Linked DNA regions of Homo sapiens: region 1 is linked to region 2. The links come from fine-mapping of genetic effects on plasma protein levels. A gene starts in region 2. The other region holds a variant in brackets. All regions are shown on one strand. Distances are between the middles of the regions.

Region 1 (10,536 bases), 91 kb before region 2:
ACATCAGTCAGAGGGGCTATTATTTAAAAGTAAAAAAAAAAAAGATGCTGGCGAGGCTGTGGTGAAAAGGAAACAATTACACACTGTTAGTTGGAATATGAATTAGTTCAGCCCTCGTGAAAAGCAGTTTGGAGATTTCTCAAAGAACTTAGAACTACCATTCAACCCAGCACTCCCATTACTGGGTATATATCCAAAAGAAAACAAATAATTTTACCAAAAAAACACATGCATTCTCATGTACATCACAGTACTATTCATGACAGAAAAGACACAGAATCACCCTAGGTGCTCATCAAAGGTGGACCATAAAAATAGATGAAATCATGTCCTTTGCTGCATCCAAAGCATGGATGAAGTTGGAGACCATTATCATAAGCAAATTAGCATAGAAACATAAAACCATGTTCTCACTTATAAGTGGGTGCTAAACGATGGATACTGATGAACGTAATGATGGCAACAATAAACAATGGAGACTACTGGAAGTGGGAGGGAGGGAGATGGGCAAGAGTTGAAAAACTAACTGTTGCGTACTATGCTCATTACCTGGGTGACTGGGCCATTCTTACTCCAAAACTCAGCACCACACAATACACCCAGGTACCAAACCTGCACATGTACTTCCTGAATCTAAAATAAAAGTTGAAAAAAAAAGTAGAAAGATTTAAAATAAGTAACATAAAAATTCACCTCAAAAACTAGGAAAGAAAAAACAAATCAAACCAAAAGATAATGGAGGAAAAGAAACAATTACAAACAGAGTAGAAATAAACAAAATTGAGGCTAAAAAATGCAAAAGATCAACAAAATGAAAAGCTGTGGTTTTTGAAAGCATAAACAAAATTAACAAACCATTAGCTAGACTAAGAAAAAAGAGGTAAGACCCAGATAAATAAAATCAGAAATGAAAAAGAAAACATCCCAACAGATATGAAAGAAATGCAAAGGATCATTAGAGTCTATTATGAACAACTATATACCAACAAATTAGAAAATGCATAAATTCTTGGATACATACAACTTACCAGTTAGAACAAAGAAAAGATATAAAACCTGAACAGTCCCATAATGATTAATGACATTTAATCATTAACAAAAGGTCTCCCAAGAAAGGAATGCCCAGGGACAGATTACTTAATTGTTGAATTCCACCAAACTTTTAAAGAAGAATGAATACCACTTCTTCTTAAACTGTTCCAAAGAATTGAAGGGGAAATACTTCTAAACTCATTCTATGAAACCAGCATAACCCTTATACCAGAACCAGATAGAACCCAACAACAACAACAAAAACTACAGACCAATATCTCAGATGAACATAGATGCAACAATCCTCAACAAAACACTAGCAAACCAAATCCAAGAGCACATCAAAAAGATAATACACCATGATCAAGTTGTATTTACCCAAGTGATGTAAAGGTAGTTCAATATATACAAATCAACAAACATGTTACATAACATCAACAGAATGAAGGATAAAAACCATATGATCACCTCAATAGATGAAGAAAAATAGATAAAATGCAACATTCCTTCATTATAAAAACTTCACAAATTAGTTGTAAAAGAAATATATCTCAACATAGTAAAGGCCACAAAGATTTTCTTCTAAGAACTGGAGGAAGACAAGGATGCCAACTTTTACTACTCTTATGAATCATCATATTGAAAGTCTTAGCCAGAGCAATTAAGCAAAATAAATAAATAAAGGTAATCCAATTGAAAAAGGAGGAAGTCAAATTGTCACTCATTGCAGATAGCATAATTTTATATATAGAAAACCTAAACACTACACCAAAAAACTCTTAAAACTGATAAACAAATTCAGTAAATTTGCAGAATAGAAAATCATCATACAGAAATCAGTATCAATTTTATACACCAAAAAGGAATTAACTGAAAAAGAAATCAGGAAAACAATTCAATGTATACTAGCTAGAAAAAAATTACCTAGGAATAAATTTAATTGAGGAGGTGAAAGGTCTCTACAAGACAAACTGTAAAATACTGATGAAAGAAATTGAAGGGTACGAAAAAAAATGAAAATATAGTCTATGTTCATGGACTTGAAGAAATAACATATTAAAATAACCATACTACCCAAAACAATCTACAGATTCAATGCAATCGCTATCAAACTACCAATAACATTCTTCACAGAAATAGAAGAAAAACATTTCTAAATTTCTTGAAACTACAAAAGACACTGAATAGCCTTAGAAATCCTGAACAAAAAACAAACAAACAAAAACAAAACAAAGGTGGAGGCATCGCATTACCAGGTATCAAAATATATTATAAAGCTATAGTAACTACAACAGCACAGCACTGTCATAAAAAAACCAGACATAGGCCAACAAAATAAAATACAGAACCCAGAAATAAACCCATGTAGTTACTACTAAATGACTTTCGAAAAAGGTGTCAAGAACCTTCATTAGGAAAAAGACAGTCTCTTCAATAAATGGTGCTGAAAAATTGGTTATCCACACATAGAAAAAATGAAACTAGACCTACCTTTTACCTTATAAAAAATCAATTCAAAAATCTTCAGGTCATTTGTCTGGGGATTTTTTTTTTTTTTTTTTTTTTGAGATGGAGTCTCACTCTGTCACCCGGGCTGGAGTGCAGAGGCACAATCTCAGCTCACTGCAACCTCCCTGGTTCAAGAGATTCTCCTACCTCAGCCTCCCTAGTAGCTGGGTTTACAGGCATGTACCATCACACCTAGCTAATTGTTTTTATTTTTTATTTTTTAGTAAAGACGGGATGTCACTGTATTGGCCAGGCTGGTCTCGATCTCCTGACGTCAAGTGATCCACCTGCCTCAGTCTCCCATAGTGCTGAGATTACAGGTATGAGCCACCGTGCCTGAATATTTTATAAATATGACCTCAAAGCACAGGCAACAAAAACAAGAATAGACAAATAGAATTCTATCAAACTATAAGTTTTCTTCACTACAAAGAAAACAATCATTAGAGTGGAGAAGAATGAAAGAAAATGTTTGCAAACTATTCATTCAACAAGGTAGTCATATCCAGAATATAGAAGGAACTCAAACAATTCCAAAGCAAATAATAATAATAATTCAATTTAAAATGGGCAAGTAATCTGAATGGACATTTCTCTAAAGAAGACATCCAAATGGACAACAAATATATGAAAAAAAAAAAAACCTCTTCAACATCATTAATCATCAGGGAAATGTATGTCAAAACCACAATGAGATATCTTATTTTTCCAGTCAGAATGCCTATTGTCAAAAATTCCAAAATTAACAATTCCTGGTGAGTATATGAGGAAAAGGGAACTTTTATATACTGTTCATGGGAATGTAAACTAGAACAGGAATTATAGGTAACAGTATGGCCATTCCTCAAAAAAACTAAAAATAGAAATAAAATATGATCCAGTCATCCCATTACTGGGTATATACCCAAAGTAAAGGAAATCAGTATATGAAGGAGATATTATGCCACCATGTTTACTGCAGTACTGTTCATAGAAGCCAAGGTATGGAATCAATGTAAGTATTCATCAACATGCATAGAGAAAAAAATGTGGTATATATACAGAATGGAATACTATTCAGCCATTTAAAAAGAATGAAATCCTCTCATTGGTGACCACATGGATGAGCCTGGAGGACATTACATTAAATGAAATAAGCCAGGGAGGGAAATACAAATAATACATGTTTTCTCTCATATGCAGAACCGAAAAAAGTTGATCTCATAGAAGTAAAGAGTAGAATAGTGGTTACTGGAAGCTGAAAGTGTAGTGAGAAGAGGGGATAGGAAGCAATTGATTAAAGGATACAAAATTTAACCTAGAAGTAGAAATAAATTCTAGTGTTCTATAGCACTGTAGGGTGTCTGTAGCCAAGAATAATTTATTACATATTTTTAAATGGCTAGAAGAGAGAATTTTGAAAGTTTTCAACCAAAATCAATGATAAATGCTTGAGGTGATGGGTATGTTAATTATCCTGATTTGATCACTATACATTGTATCTACTGAAAGGCACTATGTACCCCATTAATATGTATAATTTATGTCATTTAAAATATATAAAATATTATTTTAAAGAAAATGAGTAACAGTCATGATGAGACATTTTATTGAAGAGGATAAACAGATAAAAAGTGAATATATGAGCCAGATGCAGTGGCTCATGCCTGTAATTCCAGCACTTTGAGAGGCTGAGGTTGGAGGATCACTTGAGGACAGGAGTTCAAGACCAGCCTGGGCAAAAAAGAGAGACCCTATCTCTACATTTTTTAAAAAAAATTAACCAGGTGTGATGGCGTGCATCTGTAGAACTAGTTACTTAGGAGGCTGAAGTGGAAGGATTGCTTGTGCCCAGGTATTTGAGGCTGCAGTGAGCTATGATCATGTCAGTGCACTCCAACCTGGGTGACACAGCTAGACCCTGTCTCTATAAAATAAATAAATAAGTAAATAAATAAATAAATATTTTAAAATGCACACATAAAAATATGTTTAGCATAATTGGGCAATAGGTAAATGCAAATTAAAATTCTACTGTGATATCACTACACACCTAACAGTAAAGGTAAAGTAAAAACATAATGACAATACCAGATGCTGGTGAAGATACAAATTGAATCTTTCCCATATGGCTTGTGAGAATATAAAAAAATAAACCAACTCTGACTGGCAGTTAAACAAACTTAAAGAAAACCTATGCATATATTTACCAAATGACATAGCATTTGGACTCCTGAATATTTACCCCAGATAAATGAAACTTTATATCTACATAGAAAACTGTACATAAAGGTTCATATTAGCTACATTGGTAATAACCCCAAACTGGTTAAACAAACCGTGCTGCACACATAAATTATGGAGTACTATTCAGCAATAAGAGGGAATGAACTATAGTTACATAAGATAATTTTGATGAATCTACAGGGAATTATGCTAAGTAAAAAATGCCAATCCACTGAGGTAGAGGTTGTTCAATGGAGAAACCACCCGAAATAATCAAGTGATTAATGTGCCATCTGCTGACTGAAGTTGACTGTTCTATTATTTTGACCAAGCTACAGGAAACATAGTTGGAGATCATTTGCATAAAGGTGATGAGTACTGGATAAAAGGCATGGCATTGAAGTCACAAACCTG[G/A]GAGCTGCCCCCACATCTGAACTGTTGCCAAGTCTGGTCAGTCCTATCCTGCCACTTTGTTAGTAGAGGTACATGACATCTCTTGCCTGGGTTACTGCAACAACCTTTTATCTTGTTTTCCTGTCTCTGCTCTCAATTTTCCTTAACCAATCTCTACAAAGAAGCCAGAGTGACCTTTTTTACACACTAATAACTCAAAATACATTAGTGATTCCGCATTACCTTAAAGATAAAATTCAAACTCCTTGGATAGCGTATGAGGCCCTCATGGCCTTGTCCCATTCCACCTCTTCAACTTCATATCACACAGTTCCCCTATAACTTAGAGTTGGTAATCCCCTTCCTGCCCTCCTACTTGTCCCTCCAAATTGCCATTTGCATATACTGCTCTCTCAGCCTGAAGTGTCTTTTCTTCCAATTATGTATGTTTAATTAATCCTTTAAGTCTTAGTTCTTACACTTCCTTCCTTGATTACTACCATGAAGCAAGGAGTCTTACCAGACTATCTCCATCTGGAGGAAAAAAGAACTACAAAATATCCAAAAGACTTATTCTTTTCTACATGATTGCAGTGTTAAAGTACAATTAACTTGTATTTCTATAATTATTTGTATTATAGAGACAGCTGTACAAAATTGTTAGTATAGGAAGGATACTGTGGATATCAGAAGGTATGATGGTTACATAGTAATGTTAGTATTCCTTGTGTACACCTGTTAGTTTTGCAATCTGTTTTCTTAAGTATTTGTTTAAATTTTTGTGGGTACATAATAGGTGTTTGTATTTATGGGGCAATGTGATATTTTGATACAGGCATACAGTGTGAACTAAGCACATCATGGAGAATGGGGTTTCCATCCTCTCAAGCATTTATCTTTGCAATCTGTTTTGAATTATTATAGTTCTAACTCACTGTTATTTAGAGTGGAATTAGATGAGAGGATATTTATGAAATGAAAAAAGGCTGTTACATTGTAGTGAAGTAAACAGGCAAAGGGCTGTAGACTTTCATATTAAACCTAGGGCGTATAGAAATTTTTAACTTAGTGTTGTGTTTATAGGCATGTCTGTTTTTTTTTTTTTTACAAAAATAAATTTGGACGCTAAGAGCAAGCACTCTCCAATATGTACCAGCACAATTTTTTGGAGTGATGATGGATACTGCTCCTTTGTATATCATCAATTGACTTAATACCGGTGTGATTCAAGTGTAGATTAAAGCTTACAATGATACTGATGTGGTGTCTTATGTTACAGATGTTAAAATAACTGATAGCATTAGAAGACTCTTGACAAGAAAAAGAAAACATTACCGATGCCTTACTATAACACTATTTCTAATTTGTACAACACTTTGACAAAGCAGTTTCACTGAATCTCACTAAAACCTTATGGGCATTGTAATCTTCATTTTACAAACGAGAAAACTGAAGGTCAGAGAGGAGAGCATGGAACTAGTAGGGGATCACACAAACAAGAAGTTGAGCTGGGACCAGAATAAAATGCTTTTGACTCCCAGTTTAGTGGTCTTCTCATTACACTGCTTTACATCTGATATTGATAAGGATTTTCTAAAAGATAAAATTATTACTTTTTAAACAGCTGCTTGGCTTTTGATTTACCCATTAAGTTTACAAAATAGAAAACAATTATGCTACTGTCTTCCATATTATACTTAACCACATCTCTCTCAATTTTTAGAGAAGAGAGGCAAAACCATTAATAAATAAAATAAGTTATGATATATGATAATAATGAGCTTCAGACTCATTATTTGATCAGTGCTGTGACACACAAAGCTATATGTACATCTTTGACTCCACCTCTATCAATGCCTCATGATTATTCTTATAGAAGACTCTCACTTTAATAAGAAAAATCAAATAACATTACATATTTATTATTACTACATTAAAACCCAGAACTGTCTTATTAACTTTGCAGTGATTCTTATTATTAAAAATATGAAGATACAAGTCTGCATGTAAAAGGTTAAATTTTTCATGACCTGCAAATCTTTCTTATTAGAATATTTTCATTTCTAGCTATCCAGAGGAAATATATTATTACTTGATTGAAATTGACTGAAGCCTATCAGCAAACTCTAAATGGCAATTCAACAAATATTTCCTGAGTTCTTACTATAAATAAGGCATTGAGCTAGATTGTGAGGGATGTAATCTTTTATAAGAAATAAATCATGCTCTTGAGATGTTGACTTTTTTAAACACCTATTATTATCAAGTATACTTTACCAGGGTCCATGAGTTACTTATCTCAGTGCTCTTCTCCAGTCTCCTTTTAACTGAGTTTCTTGAATTTTAGTATATTCTCACTAAATGGCATTTTTTCTAGAAACCAATTCAACAAGGAATTGGAAAACTCATTCTTTTTATTCAGCTACCTAAAAATAGAGGATAATACACGCCTCCATAAACAACTTAAAAATAGTCAACATAGAAGTACAATATAATATGCCAGAATACAGGAAGACTTCCTAAAGGAGAAAAAGATTTTAAAGTAGGAAATAGACAGTCCTTATATGTGATCATATTCAGAAATATTTAAAAAAGAGACATACAATAAAAATTAAAAGTTGGGAATGTGAGAATTATCAAAGCTTGAATTCAAATCCAGACTTCCATCACTTACTATTTATGTGCCCTTGATAGATGCCCTTATTCCCTGTTTTAGTTTGCTCATGGTAACATTAAGGGTTGGGAGTCACGCTAATAGGAGTGAGCGTTAAAGCTAATAAAACAAAATCACTACCATTTATTAAGCATGTGAGAAACTCAGCCTGTAAGCCCTATAGTTACTGATTACCTATAATCCACAGAAGGGGGCAGTATAGCATAATAAATCAGATTGTGAGCTCCTGTTAGAGACTTGGCACTGAAGGATTACAAAGCCTTGAAATGGACCACTTGGGACATGACCAGTGAGCACCAGAAGGCAGCCATGAGGGACTGCTGAAGACTACATAACCCATTTTTTTTTTCTGGACTACTTAAACCTGGTTTAAGCCTGGCAGTTCTGTGTAATGTTAGAAAGCTGCAAGGAAAAAAAAAAAAAAAAAGACTGACTTTTGATTTCCCACCAATCTTGCCTGGGGAACTGAGACATTTACATACTACTTACCTGGTTTCAAACATTATTGTAAGTATTTTACATAAATAACTCATTTAATCTTCACATCAGCCTTACTATTGTTCTTCCATTTCACAAATGAGGAAACTGAGGCTTAGAGAGGTGAAGTCACTTGCCCAAAGTCACACAACTAGAAAGTGGTAATGCTGGAATTTGAACTCAGCAGAAAAACTAGATCTAGAGTCTGGCTTTTAGTCACAAAGCAAAACAACACAAATGTATGGGCTAAAAGAGTATGGCCTCTGGAATTAGACTGCCTGAGTTCCTATTGAAGCTCTGCTCTTTGCCAGCTGTGTGATGTTAGTCAAGTTACCTCATTTCTCTGTCCATCGGTTTTCTCACCTGTAAAATAGAGATAATAATAGTACATGCTTCAGAGAGATGCTGAAAAGAGTCAATGAGATAAACCTTATAAGTGTGCTAAGGGCTGTCTCTGACACACACTCTGCTAATAGATGTTGTCTATTCAAGTACATAAAGAGAGACGAAGAGCAAAACTTTGTGGAATTTCTTAATCAATGAAGTAAACAGACAACCTACAGAATAGAATAACATATTTGCAAATTAGGCATCCAACAAAAGACTAATATCCAGAATCTACAAGGAGCTCAAACAACTGAACAAGAAACAAACACAAATAACCAATTAAAAAGTGGGCAAAATACATGAACAGACATTTTTCAAAAGAAAGCACATAAGTGGCCAACATAAACATAGGAAAAATTTTATCCCATTCTGTAGGTTACCTGTTCACTCTGACGATAGTTTCTTTTGTTGTGCAGAAGCTCTTTAGTTTAATTAGATCCAATTTGTAAATTCTGGCTTTTGTTGCTATTGCTTTTGGTGTTTTAGTCATGAAGTCTTTGCCCATGCCTATGTCTTGAATGGGATGAACGCTTTTACACTGTTATCGGGAGTGTAAATTAATTCAACCATTGTGGAAGACAGTGTGGTGATTCCTCAAGTATCTAGAACCAGAAATAACATTTGACCCAGCAATTCCATTACTGGGTATATACTCAAAGGATTATAAATCATTCTACTATAAAGACACATGCACATGTATGTTTATTGCAACACTATTTACAATAGCAAAGACTTGGAACCAAGCCAAATGTCCATCAATGATAGACTGGATAAAGAAAATGTGGCACATACACACCATGCAATACTATGCAGCCATAAAAAAGGATGAGTCCATGTCCTTTGCAGGGACATGGATGAAACTGGAAACCATCATTCTCAGCAAACTAACACAGGAGCAGAAAACCAAACACCACATGTTCTCCCTCATAAGTGGGAGTTGAACAGTGAGAACACATGAAAACAGGGAGGGAAACATCACACACTGGAGCCTGTCGGGGTGGGGGAAGAGGAGGGAGAGCATTAGGACAAATACCTAATGCATGAGGGGCTTAAAACCTAGATGATGGGTTGATGGGTGCAGCAAACCACCATGGCACATGTATACCTGTGTAACAAACCTGCACATTCTGCACATGTATCCCAGAACTTAAAGTAAAATTAAAAAAGGAAAACATGCTCAACATCACTAATCATCAGAGAAGAGCAAATGAAAACAACGAGGTACCATCTTATGCCAGTCAGAATGTCTATTAAAAAGTCAGCACAGCTGTTATCTTCATTTTATAGATAAAGAAACTGAGTCTGAAACAGGTTAAGTGCATTGCCTAAGATGACATAGGAAGGATTTAGAGAGGTAAAGATGTGAAACCAGAAAGTCTGGCTCTACAGTTCTGCATTATTGTTATACTATGTTGTCCCTGGCCCGGAGCCCCAACCCCTAAGGCAAGGATTCACCAAATTCTTTGATGAAAGCTATGGACCTTCTCTCCCTACAAGTGCAGAGAAATTTACGTTTTTATTTTTATATACTATTTCAAGGAATTCACTTCCTGACCTTCACCACTGCTACAAACCCTTGTGTATTTCCGGTAGGAATCTCAGATGAAAACTCCTAGCTTTAAAGTTTAAATTCCACCATTCTTAAACTCTGACTCGGCCTCAAACCCTATCAAACCCTATCATTTAACAACCCAGCTCTAGAAAAAGTAGGGCGTGGTTGCGGCACTCATACTGCCCTCTATCGCCGCCTACTGGAATGTCCCTGGTAATGACAACAACATCGCCACACCTGTGGCTTAGAGACCTCTTCGCACTTTCAGGGCGTTTTCACAATAAGGTGCCATCATAGCTCAGGGGTA
Region 2 (10,368 bases):
ACCAGCCACTGCAAAAACACGCCAAATTGTAAAGACCATTGAGGCAAGGAAGAAACTGCATCAACTAACGAGCAAAATAACCAGCTAACATCATAATGACAGGATCAAATTCACACATAACAATATAAACCTTAAATACAAATGGGCTAAATCCTCCAATTAAAAGACACAGACTGGCAAATTGGATAAAGAGTCAAGACCCCTCAGTGTGCTGTATTCAGGAAACCCATCTCACGTGCAGAGACACACATAGGCATAAAATAAAGGGATGGAGGAAGATCTACCAAGCAAATGGAAAACAAAAAAAAGGCAGGGGTTGTATTCCTAGTCTCTGATAAAACAGACTTTAAACCAACAAAGATCAGAAGAGACAAAGAAGGCCATTACACAATGGTAAAGGGATAAATTCAACAAGAAGAGCTAACTATCTTAAATATATATGCATCCAATACAGGAGCACCCAGATTCATAAAGCAAGCCCTTAGAGACCTACAAAGAGACTTAGACTCCTACACAATAATAATGGGAGACTTTAACACCCAAATTTAAACAAAAGACAGACCAACGAGACAGAAAGTTAACAAGGATATCCAGGAATTGAACTCAGCTCTGCACCAAGTGGACCTCATAGACATCTACAGAATTCTGCAACCCAAATCAACAGAATATACATTCTTCTCAGCACCACACCGCACTTATTCCAAAATTGACGGCATAGTTGGAAGTAAAGCACTCCTCAGCAAATGTAAAAGAACAGAAATTATAACCAACTGTCTCTCAGACCACAGTGCAATCAAACTAGAACTCAGGATTAAGAAACACACTCAAAGGCGCTCAACTACATGGAAACTGAACAACCTGCTCCTGAATGACTACTGGGTACATAACGAAATGAAGGCAGAAATAAAGATGTTCTTTGAAACCAACGAGAACAAAGACACAACGTACCAGAATCTCTGGGACACATTTAAAGCAGTTTGTAGAGGGAAATTTATACCACTAAATGCCCACAAGAGAAAGCAGAAAAGATCTAAAATTGACACCCTAACATCACAATTAAAAGAACTAGAGAAGCAAGAGGAAACACATTCAAAAGCTAGCAGAAGGCAAGAAATAACTAAGATCAGAGCAGAACTGAAGGAGATAGAGACACAAAAAAAGCTTCAAAGAAACCAATGAATCCAGGAGCTGGTTTTTTGAAAAGATCAACAAAATTAATAGACTGCTAGCAGGACTAAAAAAGAAGAAACGAGAAGAATCAAACAGATGTAATAAAAAGTGATAAAAGGGAGATCACCACCGATCCCACAGAAATACAAACTACCATCAGAGCATACTATAAATACCTGTACGCAAATAAACTATAAAATCTAGAAGAAATGCATAAATTCCTCAACACATACACCCTCCCAACACTAAACAAGGAAGAAGTTGAATCTCTGAATAGACCAATAACAGGTTCTTAATTGAGGCAATAATTGATAGCTTACCAACCAAAAAAAGTCCAGGACCAGATGGATTTACAGCCGAATTCTACCAGAGGTACAAAGAGGAGCTGGTACCATTCCTTCTGAAACTATTCCAATGAATAGAAAAAGAGGGAATCCTCCCTAACTCACTTTATGAGGCCAGCATCATCCTGATACCAAAGCCTGTCAGAGACAAAACCAAAAAAGAGAATTTTAGACCAATTTCCTTGATGAACATTGATGCAAAAATCCTCAATAAAATACTGGCAAACCAAATCCAACAACACATCAAAAAGCTTATCCACCATGGTCAAGTGGGCTTCATCCCTGGGATGCAAGGCTGGTTCAACATATGCAAATCAATAAACATAATCCAGCATATAAATAGAACCAACGACAAAAGCCACATGATTATCTCAATAGATGCAGAAAAGGCCTTTGACAAAATTCAACACCCCTTCATGCTAAAAACTCTCAATAAATTAGGTATTGATGGGATGTATCTCAAAATAATAAGAGCTATTTATGACAAACCCACAGCCAATATCATACTGAATAGGCAAAAACTGGAAGCATTCCCTTTGAAAATCAGCACAAGACAGGGATACCCTCTCTCACCACTCCTATTCAACATAGTGTTGGAAGTTCTGGCCAGGGCAATTAGGCAGGAGAAGGAAATAAAGGGTATTCAATTAGGAAAAGAGGAAGTCAAATTGTCCCTGTTTGCAGATGACATGATTGTATATCTAGAAAACCCCATTGTCTCAGCCCAAAATCTCCTTAAGCTGATAAGCAACTTCAGCAAAGTCTCAGGATACAAAATCAATGTGCAAAAATCACAAGCATTCTTATACACCAATAACAGACAAACAGAGAGCCAAATCATGAGTGAACTCCCATTCACAATTGCTTCAAAGAGAATAAAATACCTAGGAATCCAACTTACAAGGGATGTGAAGGACCTCTTCAAGGAGAACTACAAACCACTGCTCAACGAAATAAAAGAGGATACAAACACATGGAAGAACATTCCATGCTCATGGATAGAAAGAATCAATATCATGAAAATGGCCATACTGCCCAAGGTAATTCATAGATTCAATGCCATCCCCATCAAGCTACCAATGACTTTCTTCACAGAATTGGAAAAAACTACTTTAAAGTTCATATGGAACCAAAAAAGAGCCCACATTGCCAAGTCAATCCTAAGCCAAAGAAGAAAGCTGCAGGCATCATGCTACCTGACTTCAAACTGTACTACAAGGCTACAGTAACCAAAACAGCATGGTACTGGTACCAAAACAGAGATATAGACCAATGGAATAGAACAGAGCCCTCAGAAATAATACGACACATCTATAATTATCTGATCTTTGACAAACCTGATAAAAACAAGAAATGGGGAAAGGATTCCCTGTTTAATAAATGGTGCTGGGAAAACTGGCTAGCCATATGTGGAAAGCTGAAACTGGACCTCTTCCTTACACCTTATACAAAAATTAATTCAAGACGGATTAAAGACTTAAATGTTAAACCTAAAACCATAAAAACCCTAGAAGAAAACCTAGGCAATACCATTCAGGACATAGGCATGGACAAGGACTTCATGTCTAAAACACCAAAAGCAATGGCAACAAAAGCCAAATTTGACAAATGGGATATAATTAAACTAAAGAGCTTCTGCACAGCAAAAGCAACTTCCATCAGAGTGAACAGGCAACCTACAGAATGGGAGAAAATTTTTGCAATCTACTCATCTGACAAAGGCCTAATATCCAGAATCTACAATGAACTCAAACAAATTTACAAGAAAAATCAGACAACCCCATCAACAATGGGCGAAGGATATGAATAGACATTTCTGAAAAGAAGACATTTATGCAGCCAACAGAGGCATGAAAAAATGCTCATCATCACTGGCCATCAGAGAAATGCAAATCAAAACCACAATGAGATACCATCTCACACCAGTTAGAAGGGCGATCACTAAAAAGTTAGGAAACAACAGGTGCTGGAGAGGATGTGGAGAAATGGGGACACTTTTACACTGTTGGTGGGACTGTAAAGTAGTTCAACCATTGTGAAAGTCAGTGTGGCTATTCCTCCGGGATCTAGTACCAGAAATACCATTTGACCCAGCCATCCCATTACTGCATGTATACCCAAAGGTGCATAAATCATGCTGCTATAAAGACACATGCACACGTATGTTTATTGCAGCACTATTCACAGTAGCAAAGGCTTGGAACCAACCCAAATGTCCAACAATGATAGACTGGATTAAGAAAATGTGGCACATATACACCATGGAATACTATGCAGCCATAAAAAATGATGAGTTCATGTCCTTTGTAGGGACATGGATGAAGCTGGAAACCATCATTCTTAGCAAACTATCGCAAGGACAAAAAACCAAACACCACGTGTTCTCACTCATAGGTGGGAATTGAACAATGAGAACACTTGGACACGGGAAGGGGAACATCACACCCGGGGCCTGTTGTGGGGTGGGGGAAGGAGGGAGGGATAGCATTAGGAGATACACCTAATGTAAATGATGAGTTAATGGGTGCAGCACACCAACATGGCACATGTATACATATGTAACAAACCTGCATGTTGTGCACATGTACCCTGAAACTTAAAGTATAATAAAAAAAAGAAAAAAAAAGATGAGAGAAAATGTTTCCTAAAATTTGGCAGTTAAGTGGTCCCCTGTAGCTTTAGGGAGAACAAATGGGGCTAGAAGCCAGATTATAGTAGGTTGGGGAGCTAATGGAAATTAAAGTCATGGAAACAGTTATTAGAGAAAACTCTATCCAGAAATTTGGCTAAGAAAAAAAATGAGACGAGGCTGTTGTTTGAGAAAGAGGAAATGTGGTAGAAGGGTTGATTTTATTTTGTAGTGGGAGGAATTCAAATATGTTTACGAGTTAAAGGGGTAGGCACAGAAGACAGGTAAATAATGATGCCATAGAGAGTGGGGGTAATTGATGGAGAAAGATTCATAAATATCAGGGGAGGCATTCTCTCCTCTTCTTCAAGAGGAAAGGCCAAGATGAATGAAGACAGAGAGAACCTTATAGGAATTAGGGAAGAAGTTATAGGCACTAAATGCCTAATAGAATCTGTTTTATTGATGAAGAAGAAAAGAGTCAATGTTTCTGGGCTAAGAATTCAGTGCTAAAGTAGGAACTTAACCTTTACTTCTAAAGGTAGAGGTTTAGAATAGCTCTTCAGAGAGGATGGAAGGAGCCTCTGATTGGAAGGGAAAGCAAGGATTGTACATTTGAGTGTGACAGTGAATAATTAAGGCATCAGCTATTCTTGAGAATCCTGGGTCAATTGCCACTTATTGGTTGTGGCACTGATAGATGGCATAGATAAGTCACCTATCGTTTCTGTGCCTCAATTTTGTCATCTATAAAATAGGAGTGATGTCATGGTTTTTGCCTCATAGGATTATTGTGATGATTAAATGAGCTATTGCATACAGAACATTTGGCATAGGGCCTGACATATAGAGTTCATCAAGCATTGATCAAGTGTTGGCTATTATTATTATTTTGGGTGTGGGTTTCAATTCCTTTTTAGCCATCTTATTTTTATTGTGGCACACCTGAGGCCTGGGAGCTCATTATAGAAGGATACATTCAAATGTGAACATTTTTCTCCTTGGGCTTATTCAACAGATATATTGATATATATAATATGTAAAAATGTATTGAGCGCTTAAAATACTCTAGGTACAGTTTTGCATGTGGAAATTTGTGAAATGGTATATAAGGTCCCTGCCACATAGGTTCACACTCCAGTGAGAGAAGTTAGAATCAGGCCAGAGGGACAATGGAGGGTGGGAGGAACTCTGTAAAATCCCTGCACTTGAGGGGCAAGTGGAGAATGAGAATCCATAAAATGCTGTAGAGAAATAAGTGAAACTAGAAGACATTAGTTCCATGAAAGTCAAGGGAAGAGAGTCAGAAAGAAAAGAATCCAGACAATGTTGGATGTTTTAGATAATTCAAATAAGAAAACAGAAGAATCCATGGGTTTGATAGTATGAAAATCATGGGTGACCTTGAGAAGAGCAAAATGTAGTGAGTTTGGAAATGAAGAGGTGGAGGTGAGGATATGAAAAGAATTAATCTTAGTTCAGAATGGAAAGACAATTTAGGAGAAAGAGCCAGAGGAAGAAAGACCATGAAGATACAAATAAAGCAAAATGGAATAGACAGGAGTAAACACAGATGGAGACAGGAGGGACAGGAGGAAACTCTGAGGTAAGAAACAGGATGAACTTGAATGTGGAGATGTCAGAAGTTGTTTAGACTTCAAGTTTCGTGCCCTTTTACATTCTCGGTGAAACTGGAGGTGAAGTCATCTGCTAGGGGTTTGGGAGCTGTGTTGAGCACTTGACTTAAGAAGAGTGAGTTTTAAAAGCCATCTTGGGCAAGTGGAATAGAAGATTATTTAAAATGAGAGATAACACTATTGGACTGTGCTAGAATCTAGCTGAAGTTTGAAAATTCCCATGGCTAGAAGTAACTCTTATACCCCAGCTTTCTAATTCAGAAGACCTAAGCCTGTATACACCACTGCAGCAAACATTTATGGCCAAGTTTATCTACACACATCTCACAGGCTAAAGAGAACAAGAAGCTGATATTGTGTTCAGGGACATCCTTAGCAATGTTTGAGTTTACAGGGGTTGCCCCACAGGCCTCAGCATCCCCTTAGTCTTTCAGCTTCTTTTCCTGCCCCCTGGTCCCAGTCTTGAGAGGAGCTATAAGGGCCCCATTCTGCCTGGATAACCATGAAGCTCCTTCATGAAAGGTGGTCCTGCCATTGTTGGACACTAGAATTAGAGGCTACCCAGGATTCTCTGAGACACAGCCAAGGCCAGTATTCCCCTGAGTGACCCTAAGTAACCTCTGAGAGAGAGCTGAGGGGTGGCATCAGAGAGCCCTGAATCTCACTGAGCCCCAGAATCTGTCTGGTCCCAGAGATAAGCAGAGTGGAGGCTGGTCCTGCCTATCCTGCTGTCAGGTTAGGCTGGTTCCAGCAGTAGAATGTAGGTAGAGAAACTCTGTACTGATAGTTCTCAGTTTGGGTTCACAAAGTGACTCCTGTTTATCATAAAAGGAGGGGCTGTGGAAAGCCCCCAAGAAATTAGCTGATCCAAACTTAGTTCTGCTGCACAAGCACATGGAGCTAGAGTGGCTCCCCCACAGAGAGCAGAGTTGAGAGCCTTAACCCTACTCACCACCACACTGCACCGGGGGTCCTGGGGCTATGTTGAGAAAAAGCTCACCTACCCAGTGGATTTCAAAAGGCCTAGGCAATCCCATTAGCTTGTACTAGCTAGGGTATTCAAGAAAGTCCACTTTGATAAAGTGACATTTAAGCAGGGATATGGAGGAAGTGAGAAAAGGAGCCATGCTGATATCTGGGGGAAGAATTGGCTAGGCTGAAGGAGCAGCAAGTGCAAAGACCAGAGTCTTGAGCATGCTTTGAGTGTTGGAAAAAATATCAAGGCCGCCAGTTGGGGTTGGGTATGGTGGTCAAGGCGAGTGGTAAGAGGTGAGATCAGAGATAGAGGGGCAGGTTAGTGAGGATGGGATGGCGTGGGATAGATTGTAGACTATTATAGACCATAGTTAAGGATTTTGGGTTTTCTGCTGAATAAGAAGCCAACCAGTAGAATTGCTTGGACAGACTTAGACTGATGTACTTTTAAAAGGATCATTCTGGTTGCTCTGCTGAGAATTGACTGGAGTGGGGTAAGCATGAGAGCAAGGAGAGCTATTGGAGGATATGGCAATAATTCAGGTGAAAAGTAATCGTGGCTTGCACCAGAGTGGTTGCAGTGAAGGTGCTAAGAAGTTGGTGAAATTCAGAGTTTATCTCTGAGGCAGGAGGCAGAGCTGATAGGATGTGCTGATGGGTTGAATGTGAGGTGTGAGCAAAAGGAGAGGGGAGGATAATTCTAATGATTGTGGCTTCATAGATTATGAAGATAAAATGAATTAATTCATGAAAAAAATTTGAGCAGTGCCTGGCAAGTGCTTAGTGAGGGCCAGCTAACTGTTATAGTATTATTGGACAAGTTATGGTGGAGGACAGTGGTTTCATATTTGCTGCTTATAATCACTTTCCACAATAGCTTGTGGACTCTGACATATCCCTGGTACCTCTATCTCAAGTTTCCTCCTGTACTTCCAGGCAGAATCACAGAGTACAAGGAGCCTCTTCATCTACAAAATGAGGATGGTAACCTCAACCTCATAGAATGGTTGTAAGGTATAAAGGGACACATATGCATGATTTATAGGTGCTCAGTAAATGTTATTCTTGTCCACCTTCTAAACCTTTGCTACTAAAACTATGGTCTGTGGCCCAGCACCATCAATATCACCTGGAAGCAGTTAGAAAATCAGAGTCTTAGTCCCACACCACAGCTGCTAACTCAGAATCTGTGTTTTAACAAGATCCTTAGGTGATTTGTGTGCACATTAATATGAGAGAAGCACGGCTCTAGCGTTTCAAGGTCATCCAGTCCAACAGTCTCTTCAGGATACAGATGCAGAAAGGAAAACTAAGAGAGAGGAAGAGATTTACATGATGTTACACTTAGTTTTGTCAAGACATCTAAATTCCAAGCTAGGGTTCTTTACACTAAAGTTTCAAAACTGTCTGTAATTCAGCTTCTCTGGGTAGGAAAGGATGGAGAAAAAGAAGAGGTCCTGTTTTCTAGGAAAGGACAGAACAGAATTAGGAGGTACCCAGGGTAGCTATTTTCATTTGAATCTCACAGATGATTTCAGAGGTCCCTAAATTGCATTCATGTATTTATTTATATTTAATAAACACTTCTATACCACTACGTCCCAGAAATCATTCTAAGCTCCTTACGCATATGAACACTATTTTGTATATTAACTCATATAATACCTAAAACAATCCTATGAGTAAGGGATTGTTATTTTCCCCACTTTACAGAAGAGAATCCTGAGCCACAGAGTGGTTAAGTAACTTGCCTTAGGTCACAAAGCTAGTAAGGGGCAGACCTAGGATTCCAATTCTGGCAGTTTTCCCTTCTACTAGGCCTGAGCCCACAGTAGCCTATTCTGGTCTTAACTCTAGCTAGGGGACAGATATGAAGTTCATTTAGGACTTTTTCTACTTCAGCTTAGGGCCTATTCAGCCCTTTCCCACCAAAGGCTTTTCAGCTGCTTTACTGAGACTCCACCCTGAGCTGGCATATAGCCTCTGCCCAGTACAGGAGGGGTCCCTCAGAGACTGATAATGGCTCATTTCTTGGTCCTCTCCCCCATACCTTGGCTCAAGCTTTTCTTTTCCTCTACCCATTAGGCTATTTCCTCTTTGACCTCTTTTAAAAGCTCCTAATCTATTGAAAAGCATTTGCTTTCCTTGTCAGACTCTTTTTTACTCCTTCTTCCTACTGGCCCCCAAACCCTTCCAGTCTGCACCTCATAGTTTGGCCCTTAATTCTCTGTCTCTGTCCGGTCTACTTTATCTTCCCAGCTCTGCAAACTCTTCAAGGTCAGGGACTAGTAACGTTTCGGGATTTATCCACCGCTGCCTCTGAGATCATGGATTAATAAACTCCCAAAGTGTCATTGTTTGAAGTGCCCTTAGAGACTACGTAGCTCAACCCCCTCCTTGTACAGACACTCAGGGGCCCAGAGAAGATGGATGATCAAAGCTGAGTGCCGAATCCAATTTTCCTTTATTTTTAGTGGTCTTTTCCCTGCTTCATGTCTGCTCTCTTCCTCCTGTCACAATCCTATCTACCCTTCTGAATGGAGGAGTATTTTTTTGAGGCAGATGCAGAGCTGGAAAGCGGCTTCTCCATGTGTCTGAAAATTTTGGCTTTTCCAACAATAATTTTCCCTGTCAAACTCCAAGCCTGCTAAGTCATGAATAAACTTTGATGAGCTGAGCTGCATTCAGCTGTGAAAGAGACAACTTGATGCTTTCTCTGGACCCCACTCCCTGGCCCTCTACTCTCTGGCCCCCGCTTCAGTCCCAGGAGATTTGCAGCTCCTGCCATACCAGTGGCTGGGTCACTGTTCTTCAGCCTCACATTGTTCCTCTCAAAGGCAGTTTCTTTTCGTAGCCACGCCTAGGCACTCAAACAGTCCAATAGCTGCTCTAGGAACTTCACGGGGGCGGAAGAGGTAAGCTTACCGTGAAAGGAGGGTTTGGGCTGTTGTTGCTACACGTGGATGTGAAATGAGTCAAGCGGAACTTTGATTACAAGGAATTTCATATACTGTGAGTGTGTATGCAGGCTGGGGGCTGAGGGGCGGGGGCTGAGGGGCGGGGCTGATGGGCGGGTCTGAGGGGCGGGGGCTGAGGGGCGCGGGGTGAAGGGCGGGGGGTGACGGGAGGGGGCTGGGTGAGATGTGTGCTCTGCGCTGAGGTGGATTTGTACCGGAGTCCCATTTGGGAGCAAGAGCCATCTACTCGTCCGTTACCGGGTGAGTGTGGGAACACCCCCTGGTGTGGCAAGGCGGCTGGGACCTGCGGCATCTAGGTGCAGAAGTACAGAATCAGGTCAGGATGATCCTGCTAGGGTACCGCAAAATCAGAACAATTGGGAAGGCGCCCTGTGGCTGGCTGTCAGTCCATCCATTTGTGTCCGGAGAGCGCTTTCTGAGGTATCAGGGATCTGGGCTGACATCTCTAGGATCTTGGCGAGCCATTTCCTGTAGGCTCTTACTGGACCTGCATTGCCTCTGAGAACATGCCTGGACGTGTCCAACAACCTTGAGCATCTAGGGTTGGGAGATAAAGAAGAGAAGGAGGCTGGGTGTTAGTGAAGGCGGGGACAGTGGATCAGACTTGTGGAGCATCCTGAGGAAAGCAGAACTGC

Alleles and levels. Positions count from the first base shown, and alleles are read on the strand shown. Strength reflects both the effect of a copy and how common the allele is.
In carriers of allele G in region 1, the plasma level of the protein whose gene starts at base 9,890 in region 2 tends to be higher than with A alone (strong association).

What was found. PIP is the posterior inclusion probability: the model's chance that the variant is causal. Protein levels are from antibody-based Olink assays in UK Biobank. Linkage for the fine-mapping came from a reference panel and not from the study's own genotypes, which makes the PIPs less certain.
Region 1: its variant is fine-mapped to the plasma level of the EDA2R protein (UK Biobank, PIP 0.96).

What each region holds. Positions count from the first base shown.
Region 1 is chrX:66,729,078-66,739,613 of GRCh38, reverse strand. No RefSeq gene overlaps it. Among named protein-coding and RNA genes, the nearest start is that of EDA2R, 95 kb to the right of the region's middle. The variant G/A (reference allele first, on the strand shown) is at 5,161.
Region 2 is chrX:66,638,600-66,648,967 of GRCh38, reverse strand. It overlaps EDA2R (ectodysplasin A2 receptor), which reads left to right and starts at 9,890. Exons shown (of 7, transcript NM_021783.5): 1 at 9,890-9,973. RefSeq lists an enhancer at 10,070-10,368.